2 separate regions of the Homo sapiens genome follow, and region 1 is linked to region 2. Evidence: fine-mapped expression QTL. A gene starts in region 2. The other region holds a variant in brackets. All regions are shown on one strand. Distances are between the middles of the regions. Region 1 has its middle 3.5 kb from the start of CALHM6-AS1. Region 2 holds the start of DSE (dermatan sulfate epimerase).

The links. PIP is the estimated chance that this variant, and not a neighbour inherited with it, causes the effect.
Region 1: its variant is fine-mapped to the expression of DSE in whole blood (INTERVAL, PIP 0.97).

What each region holds. Positions count from the first base shown.
Region 1 is chr6:116,464,548-116,469,929 of GRCh38, forward strand. No RefSeq gene overlaps it. Among named protein-coding and RNA genes, the nearest start is that of CALHM6-AS1, 3.5 kb to the left of the region's middle. The variant G/A (reference allele first, on the strand shown) is at 2,958.
Region 2 is chr6:116,367,697-116,373,055 of GRCh38, forward strand. It overlaps DSE (dermatan sulfate epimerase), which reads left to right and starts at 3,251. Exons shown (of 6, transcript NM_013352.4): 1 at 3,251-3,425. It overlaps LOC100287467 (a long non-coding RNA gene), which reads right to left and starts at 4,023. Exons shown (of 1, transcript NR_148944.1): 1 at 1-4,023. RefSeq lists enhancers at 2,058-2,107, 3,622-4,122 and silencers at 3,038-3,567, 3,330-3,624.

The sequences.
Region 1 (5,382 bases), 97 kb after region 2:
TACCATACAAAGAAATGCAAATTGTGACCTGATTTAGATTAGGGGAGAAGGGATTTGAGGAAACTTTTTGAAAACTGAATCCTGTAGGGTAGCAAGAAGGAGCATTTCAGTCCTACTGAAGGAACAGTATGTGCAAAGACTAGGGAGAAAAAGATGTTAGCAGAGTTGGAAACCTGAAAGGCGACTGAAAAAAATGAGCAAGGGACTGAGTGTGCAGTGCCTGGAAACCATGAGAAGGATTTTGGTTTTCATCATATGAGCATTTTAGGAAGATGGTTTGCTTTCCTTGAGAGAAAAGGAATGACATGGGAAGCAGGAGAGCCAGGGTAGAAGGAGAGAGACTAATCAGGAGGCCACTACAGTGGAAATAGGTGGGAGTGAACTTGAACTGAGTGGATGGGGACCAAAATGGAAAAAGTAGATAGATTCAAGGTAGACTTTGTACATAGATGTGGCAGGATTTGTTGATAGAAAGTCTCTAAAGACGGTGAGAGCAATTATATCTACGGATAAAATTCTGTAACTTTATAATGCCGGGACTTTTCAGCGATCCTTGCCTTCCATTAGCTTGTCATTCCTGCCCATTCCCCAAATTTGTGGCTGTTTTCTGAATTTTAAAATATGAGATAAAAAAACTTTAAACTATAAAATAATTGAGCACTGGTCATATTTAGCCCTTCTTCCTCTTTTGGCAGAAGCTTATGCTGATTTCTGTTTACCTTTTTCTGCATAAGGCCGTTAAAAAGAACTAACCTACAGGGCAGAATATCCTGTTGTTGAGAGTCATGCGTAACAAGAAAGTTGGCAGCAGAAACAGCGTGATCAGCTTTTTTTCATTCCCTAAAAGAATGCTTTTGAAAATCATATCATACCTAGTTTCATTTTTACTTCCTTTATTTCATTTTCCAATTGCTGCTTCCTTTTTCGTCTGAGACAGGATCTCACTCTGTCACCCAGGCTGGAGTGTAGTGGCAAGATCTTGGCTCACCGCAAACTCTGCCTCCCTGACTCAAGTGATCCTCCCACCCCAGCCTCCTGAGTAACTGGGACCACAGGCATGTGCCACCATGCCCAGCTAATTTTTGTACTTTTTGTAGAAATGGGGTTTCACCATGTTGCCCAGGCTGGTCTCGAACTCCTGGGCTCAAGCAATCTGCTTGCCTCAGCCTCAAAGTGCTGGGATTACAGATGTGAGCCACTGCGCCCAGCCTCCAATATCTTTTTGTATATTCTTTCCTTTCAAAACTTTTTTTATGTTCTATCACTTATACTTGCATCTTCAGTAGTATCATATTGTCTCCATTGTTTTGATTTATGCTCCACCTCCTCTTGCACAGTCCTTAATAATTATTGTGAAAATATATATGCTTAAGAAAATAATTGTAATGGTAGAGAATGGTGAGAAGTAAAATAAAATTACCTCATTCCTTTGCAATATATTCTTCTCAGAAGTAGCCATGTATAAACTCTGTGTCTGCATAAACTCTATCATAAGTGTTGTTCTGTAACTTTTACACATAAAGTACAATTATTCCATGTCAGTATCTGACAATTTACCTCATTTAAAAAATTGCTACTTAGTATTTTACTGGTTAGTAGGATATTATCCCTTTTTTGTTAACCCCACCGACCAGCCCCCACACACATGCACACACATTCATAAAGTGTAGAAAGGTAAGCACTAAATTATCAAATGTGGTCCCTTCTGAGGACTAAGATTGGTGCAGGAATTTTTTTTAATTTCATGCACTTTTGATCTTTGGAGTTGTTGTAATGAATAATAAATATTAAATGTATAATTGGAAATTTTTAAAAAGTAACCTTACCCTGGTGTAGAGTTTTACAGTCAAAAAAGCAGTTTTGCATCTTTTATTTCATTTCATTTTAACAAGTTTCCAGGTTACCCGTGAAACACCTCACTCACATTTACAAATGGGAATCGAAAGTTAAAGAGGTTACATCATTAATCCAAAGTTACATGTCAATAAAGGCAAAACCAAAGGTAGGGTACGGATCCTCCCTAGATGATGTAGTTTAATGTGGCCACTGGCTGTTTTTATTACTGGGTCAGATTTTTCCCTTCCTAGCCCATGTGACTTTGTGGGCAGAAGAGATACAGATCTCCTTAGTGACCCTCAATATTTGACGTTTTATCTTGAAACTCAGCAACTACTAACAGGAAAGACCACTTTGAATAAACATGGTGAGACTGAGACACAGTAAGTTATTTCTTGGTGGGAACAAGGTCACTGCTATTTGGCAGAAGTCACCACTCCTCTGGGCCTGGCCCAAACAGGCTGCATCATTGGCTGAAGAAGCATTTCTACACTCAGTATGTATTTATTTGCTGGTTTACCAAATGATTCTTCATCATCACCCCCAGCTTTATGCTATCCTGAACACCTAACCTTTAAAGAGATTCAGATGCAGAATCTGCTATTAATATTTGCTGAAAAACAACCACATTGTTATAAGAGATGATTCTACGTTGTATCGAGTACTGGCAAGATAATAACAAGGCATAAGATTAAGAATGGTCTCCTTGCTTTATCCAAAGCCATGGCTAGAAATATCAATGCTCAATGAACTGACTAAAGAAGCAAGTCCTAAGGGGAGTATCTGAAAATAGAATTAGCCAAATACTCAAATGTCTCTGGCTGAAAAACATCTTGGAACTCTAAATTTCACAACATCCTGCATCTTATCTACCAGGTGGCCTACAATAAATTATTCTCCCCAAGATAAAAGATGGAGAAACCCTCCCTCTCTGAGTCAGCCCCAGCAGCAGCAGCCAGGGCCTATTTTGACAGCAGCGCACTCCCACTGAGTGTTTAGCACACCTCACACTAAGCCTACCCCAAAAGCAAAGCCTTTAGTTGACTTAATTTTGTCCCTTCCTCTTCATTACATACTTATGAAATATCTCTTGTAAATTGCAATGTAAGGACTGTGGAATT[G/A]ATCATATTATATTCTTATCCAGTGAAAAAGACTGAAATCAGGGCTGGCACAGTGGCTCATGCCTGTAATCCCAGCACTCTGGGAAGCTAAGGCAGGAGAATTGCTTGAGACCAGAAGTTCTGAGACCAGCCTGAGAAACATAGCAAGATCTTATCTCTACCAAAAAAAAAAAAAAAAAAATTATCTGGGTGTGGTGCTGTGCACCTGTAGTACCAGCTACCCTGGAGGCTGTGGTGGGTGGATCACTTGAGCCCAGGAGTTTGAGGTAGCAGTGAGCTATTATTGTGCCACTGTACTCCAGCCTGGGTGGTAGAGCAAGACATGTCTCTAAATAAATAAATACATACATACATAAAATGATTTTTTAAAAGATCCAAATCAAAAAAGGGTATATTCTTTCAAGATGATTTGCCACAAGGACTAGAACATTAAGAAGTTCCAAATGAAAGGAATATCCTACAAGATCCGGCAATTTATTGCCATTTTAAAAATTATGAGAAATAAATCACAGAGAAGAGTATATGAAACATTTATGTACAATTTAATAATTATTACAAAGCAAACATCTATGTAACCACCGAAGAGTGGAAGGAAATGTACATTTCCAGCACCCCAGAAACCCCTGCCTCATACATCCTTTCACACTTCCAACTCTTTCCACCTAGAAGTGAGAAGTGATCATTTCTTTCTTTTTGCTGTTTTACCACTTAAGTGTGCATTCCTAAACTATCCATGCTTAGTTTTGCTGGTTTTTGAACTTTAAATGAATACAATCGTGCTGTAATAATTGTTTTGTGATATTCTTTTTGTTTTTAAGAGATTAATCCACATTATGTCTAGGACAATTTATTTATTTTGATTGCTGTGTGGTATTTTATTGTTCAAATATACTATAATGTAGTCCATTGAACTGCTGATGGACATTTGGGTTGTTCCCAGTTCTGGCTCTTATCAGCACTGCTGGTATGAACATTCATGCACTTGTACTCTGATAAACACGAGCAAGTGTTTCTTCAGAGTGCATTTCTGGGAATAAGTGGTAGCATGAGAGTATGCACATATTCCAGTTTGTTATATCATGTCAAATATAAAGGATTGTATCCATTTATACTACTATAAGAATTCTCATTGCTTCTCACTTCTGCAATATTTGGTATTTCTAGTTATTTACTTTTTGTCAGGGGAATATGTAATGGTATCTCTCATTGTGGTTTCAACTGACATTTCCCTAATCATTGCAGACTTTAGGCATCTATACATCTCTTTTCTAGCCATTTGGATATCCTTTTTTATGAAATGCCTATTCAAACCTTTTGCCCATTTTCTATATTTAGTTTGTCTGTCTTTTCCTTATTGATTCATAGGATTTCATTATTATTTCATTCACTTAAACCAACAAATATTTATTGAGTGTCTGATACATTCTGGGCATGTTCTAGCATGTGTCAATGAAGCAAAACCAAAGCTCTGTCCTCATGGAGCTTACATTCTAGGGGGAAGCGGAGGAAAAAAGAGCAGCCACAATAAATAATAATAATAATAAAAAATAAATAATTGGGTATGTAAGGAGAAGATTAATACTATGAAAAAAAGAAAACGGAGAGCACCCCAAGAAGCATTAGAAAGGCTGGAGATTGGAGAGCTGTTGCCCTCATGAGAAACGACCTTTGAGCAAAGATTGAAGGGATGAAGGGTTAATCAAGGTGGTCTGAGAATGGCGAATTAGGGGACAGAAATAGGCCATGAAGTCAGAGAGATAAAGGGGTTGGGGACAGATTATGTAAGCCTTTGGACCACTGTAAGCACTCTGGCTTTTATTCTGAATGAGCTGAACAACTACCTCACACATTCCCTACAACAGCAGTCCCCAACCTTTTTGGCACTAGAGACTGGTTTCTTGGAAGACGATTTTTCCACAGACAGGGGTGGGGGTGGGTGGTTTCAGGACGATTCAAGTGCATTACATTTTTTGTGCACTTTATTTCTATTATTATTACATTGTAATAATGAAATAATTATACAACTCACCATAATGTAGAATCAGTGGGAACCCTGAGCTTGTTTTCCTGCAACTAGATAGTCCCATCTGGGGGTAAGGGGAGACAATGACAGATCATCAGGCATTAGATTCGCATAAGGAGCATGCAACTTAGATCCCTCACTAGATGCTGCCGATCTAACAGGAGGTGGAGCTCAGGCGGTAATCCAAGTAATGGGCAGCAGCTGTAAATACAGATGAAGCTTCACTTGCTCGCTTGTCACTCACCTCCTGCTGTGTGGCCCAGTTCCTAACAGGCCATGGACCGATACCAGCCCATGGCCCAGGGGTTAGGGACCCCTGCCCTACAACACCTAAATGATCTGATGACTGAAGCTGACCATTGGACTTTCTGGGATAATCAACAGAAGATAAGAACATACTGA
Region 2 (5,359 bases):
GATAAAATAAGCTTTCAAAGAGTTAACTGAAAAGATAGGTGAAGAAGCTTGTAAGAAAATATGTCCTAGCTGTCTAAAGCTTAACTTCTTCTTGCCTAGTAAATTTCCATCTCAGCAAGGAGAGTTTACCAATAAGGACTCTCAGCTAGAATCAGCAGAGGGAGATGAACACTAAAAAACTGGAGGTGGACAGATGGAGTTCCAGTTTTTGCCTTAGTCTGAAACCGAGGCAAGAAACTTTTCACAGATACTGAACAAAATGAATAAACCTATTATTAAAATGACATCTGGATACTTAGAAAAGGAAGACACAATTTTGTAGACATGAACCACAATTCACTAAGTAGTCATTTCCTTTGTTTTTTGACAATATTACAGTAGAGCAAAGACATCCAATAGACAAAGCTCATCTGCTGTCTGTTTGGAGCTGCATCTAGGCGTAAGGGGTCACTTTTTCCTAATCCTTCAGCTAAGGTGAGAGTGGGGATACCTTTTTCTAATTCTTACAAAAGTGCCACGTACCCATGTACACAGGCTGCTACCCTGGGACAACAGACAAAAATAGGACAAGGTAACATGTGGGTCCTCAACTGATAAGAATGTTCATCAGTAGCATTCAAATCCAGTGTCGGTTGGCAGAGGAAGGTACCTGAGAATGAGAACTTAAATGATGGCATGGCATACAGACCGGATTTACAGAGGTCATGAAATTGAGAGGTGGAATTACTCAGTTATATCAATGATACCCAATATGTCAACAAGCTAAGAGGCCTAATTTAACACAATAAAATTCAGTAGAATCACAGGTAAAGTGCTGAACACTGCATTGAGTGTAGTTGTTTAGTTCAGTGATTCTCCAACTAAACTTTTAACACTTTAAGGTTTTATTTGGTAGATTGTAATATGGAGTCAGCTGGGTAATATTGCTGCCATGGAAGCTCCAAGGATATACTTAGGGAAATACAGTAATTACAACAAAGCCATTAAACATCTTTCTAGTTTGTCACTTGGGTGAAACCTTGAATTCAATTCTTGGCATCAGGGTTTGAGAGAGATGTTGGCAAAGTAAATCTCCTCCTGAGAGCTTTCCTAATGGATGAAGAAAAGCTGATGGAGTTAATATGTACCCAGGTAAATTGAAGTATTCTCCTGTGGAATCAAGGCTAGGTGTATCCTGTAGATTCCAGAGAGCAGAATAGCAGATCTGTTGAGACTTACTGTAATGGGGTGGGCGGGGGCGGGGGGACGGGGGGGGCTTTGCACAAAGTGAATGTCATCCAGAGGCCAATTCGCAGGTCACTCAAAAGCAAAATTGTGGGGGGTGTGAGGGTAAAGGGGAGCAAATGACAGTCAGTACTACCTCCTTTGAAGAATTCTCAATCCTGGTTGTACATTGTGATCATCTAGGAAGAGATTTTAAAATGCAGATGCTGATGCTTAGACCCTAACCTCAGAGATTCTGATTTGTTGTTCTTGCGTGGGGGTCCCCATTGGAAAGAATTTATTATAGCTCCCCTGCTGATTCTAAAGTTCTAGGTTGGAGAATCACTGAACTAGACTACTACTTGCTGAGAGGTTACGTAAATTAAACCAGATGTTTTTTCTAAAGTCTCTTTCAAATTTGAGAAGATAAATGGAAATTAACACTTACGGATTACATAATACAGCTAGACACTTTCACAATTTATTCTAATAATTGAATTAGTATATGTAAATCTCTTAGCACAGTGACCGTCTGATATGGTGTAGTAAACTCTCAATAAACATTAGCTATTTTTATTATATCCTCTCCATAACTGTTCAAACAAGGTATTATATTGTTACACTATAGATGAGGAAACTGAGGTTCTGATGTTAGTTTTCCAAGGCCCACAGTAGTAAAAGCAAAGTTTGGATTTGAACCAAAGATTAGTTCCAGTTTCCAGAGCCCTCTTCTCTCCTCGACAGGCCTTCCCTAAAGCATCAAGAAGTTTATGCAAATTAGTGGTTCACCTGAGTGAACATTTAAAAAATTTAATAGTACCACTTCCTCTTGACCTGTTTGTAAGGAGTTCCTCTTAAATGCAATTTCTGAAAAAGAGAAGCATAAACTGAGACATCCACATTTTTTCCTTATTTGGCCAAATAGAAGTGAGAACCTCTGAGGATAGAGGAATTGGATGGAGGTGCCCTTCAGAACTCATGGAGAAAAGCACTGCTCCCAGTAAAATATCTCTCATTCTAATGAATGGGTAAGTATCCTACAAATCTTTCACTTCTGTACAATCTAGGTCTGGTAGGTTACTTGCACACACTGGGTGGAGGTGGAAGGGGCAAAGTATTCCTGAGGTGATGGCCCTGATCCTACCTCACATCTCCTTGGGGCCTGGTTGGACCTGGCTGAGCGTGTTTGAGCAGTGGCTGATTTTTGGAAAACAGGAGGACTCTTCTCCAGGAGGCTGTGACTACCAAGGTTGCAAATGCTCCACCTGAACTTGGGTGCATGAGGGATCTCTCTCTCTCACACACACACACCCCCCCACCGCGTAAGATAAATTTCTGTTTGTGAGCTGCCTACATTAAATGCTTTGCTCCTGACCTTCTGTGATTAAAATCTGTTCCGTTTGCAGGGTTCGGTGCGCTTGGATTTAGTGTATTTTGTTGGTACAGTAAAAAAGAGAACTGCTTCTCTATAGGTGACCCCCGCCCCAAAGTCCCCCCTCCCACTAACTTCTCTTTGAGAAGAGAGTAAAACCGAATTCGAGAGAAAAGAGGCAGTAACTATTCGGGAGGAGGCAGACTGGAGTGGGCACCAGTCCCGGTAGTAAGAGTCTTAACGTCTTCCTCGCTTTCCTCTCGCAGAGTAGTATGGAAGCATCAGCTCCTCCCCCTGGGCCTCCAAAAGTTACCTTTCCTTTGGGTGTGATTCTCGAACCCGAAGCGTTTGAGTCCTAAGAAACTAGAACAAGTTAGAGCCAAAGAGGCCTGGCGGGCGGGGGTGCGGGTGGAGTCCGGGCCGGGTGGCGTGGAAGGCCGAGCACAGCTGCGAGCGGCGAGTCCCGGGAGAGGAGGAGCGGGAGAAAGCGGGGCGGGCCTGCGGTCGGGGTTCGGCCGGGGGAGGGGGTCCCCGTTTCCCTCTCCTCATCCTCGTCTCCTCTGGCTCTGGTGACGTTGCGGTTTCCTCCCCCCTCCAGCGGAGCCTCAGCGCCCGCCGCGTCCCTCCCTCCGCCCCTTTCGCCCACACCTACCCGCCCCCGCCGGCCCGGCTCTCAGTAGCGTCGCCCGAGGCTGCAGCAGCGCATCCCGGGGCATGGCGCGGCGGGGGCGCGGAGGGCTCGGTTCGGAGGGGGCCGGGAGCCCGGGCGCCCTGGAGTGAGGAGGACCGGGAGCTGGCTCTGGAGGCTGCGGAGGCGACGCCGGAGAGAACGAAGCCTCGGCTGGGAGCGGTAAGTGGAGGGGCGCGCAAGGGACGAGCTGGGGCGCGCGGCGCAACTTTCTTCGGGAGTTTCGGGCGGGTAGCCTTCGGGGCTGTCCCGGCGCGGGCGGGAGACGGAGAGCCACGTCCCCGGCTGAGAGCGGAGCGCCGCGGGTTGCGCGCCCGGGCCCGGCTCGGCTGGACTCCGAGAGAGCGCCTGACGCGTGAAGCCTGAGCCACGGGCTTCCCCGGCGGCGGAGCAGCCTCGAGGGGCAGCTTTTCGATCCTCCCCACCCCCTTGAACGCCGAGCACCGAGCCGGGAACACGATGAGAACCTGGAGATCGCATTCCGTGCGTCGGATCTGGCCGGCCCAGCCGCGATTTCCTCGACGGTCCTTGGGGCCTCGGCTTCACTCTGCGGGGTTGGGTGGCACACCCTCGCGTCCTCCTTTCCCTCCGTACCCCAGCCATTTGGGGGCAGGGGAGGTGGCGGCGGCTTGTGTGCAGATCCTGGCGCTGGCAACCCTACTTTGCGGCTGCAGAAGCCGAGGAAGAGCTCCCCAAGCCTCTCCCAGACGCTGGATTCCAGCGCTCCTGGGCTCCGCCGGCACTCGGAGAAATTGTTAGTAAACCTCATCCCCGAGGCAGTCCCGGGGAGGGGAGGAGGCGGGGGCTTGACTCACAGACTGGGAAGCTCTGAAAGCGATGCCACATGGGCTCAAGATCTGTCGGGGCTGGAATCTGAGCTAAGTTTGTGACCTGAGAACTTTTTCGTTTATATCGCTCCTTTAAAGCAGCAGCCTCCTCTTAAGCCGGCTGGCATTCAGATGGAAACCGAAGCCTTTGGTTAAAATCAGGAGGTGAACCTCACTTACCTGAAATTCTTTAGGTCAGGCAATGACGCTTTTAGTTCTAGGAATCTTCGTGTAATAAAGTTCTTTTTAAAAATTTTTTCGTTGGTCATGGTTTAGAAAGTCATGGTTTAGCACTGTTAATTAAATGCATGAAAGATCTCACTTATACATATTTTTAGTATTTTTCACATTATAGAATTTAAACTTTAAGTAATTCCCTCAAGTTTTTAAAAAATTTCTCGGCCGGACGCAGTGGCTCACGCCTGTAATCCCAGTACTTTGGGAGGCCGAGGCAGGCGGATCACGAGGTCAGGAGATCGAGACCATCCTGGCTAACACGGTGAAACCCCGTCTCTACTAAAAATACAAAAAATTAGCCGGGCGTGGTGGCGGGCGCCTGTAGTCCCAGCTACTCGGGAGGCTGAGGCAGGAGAATGGCGTGAACCCAGGAGGCGGAGCTTGCAGTGAGCCGAGATTGCGCCACTGCTCTCCAGCCTGGGCGACAGGCTCAAAACAAAACAAAACAAAATTCTCAATGATAATCTCTATGTGAAATAGTGATAAACAATATTGTATAGAGTATTCTAACTATATTACTAAATGGGATCACAAAAAACCTAATGTGCATGGAAGAAAATAAAATATAGGATTATCTGAGTATTTGTTTCATGCAAATACTTAGATTTCTGTATTGTGACCTCTTCCTTTGACGGTCACGATACAGATATAAGTTCTTTTCTGAAGTATGTAGGTAAGGTCTGTTCTAGTAAAAATGGAGAAGATAACAGATTGAATTTGATGTCTCCATCACCTAGTGACCCGTCTGTGTGGGTTCAGCAAAAAGTGCAAGATAGTGCTGGTTACCTAGGTTACATACACAGGTATATGAGATCAGCCTTAGCTCTCTTGGAGCTGCTAATGTAGAACCTGAGAAACATCAATAAGCAGCACTTCCTAAGTTTGAGCTTGGGAAGAGTTATTTTTCATTGACTAGTATATGACGTCAGTATCCGTTTTTATGAAGTTTTAGTTAAATAAAAACACTGGCCTAAAAAGTACATTCTGACAGTTTAAAAAATACTGAAAGTACAGTCACCAAGTGAAGGGGAA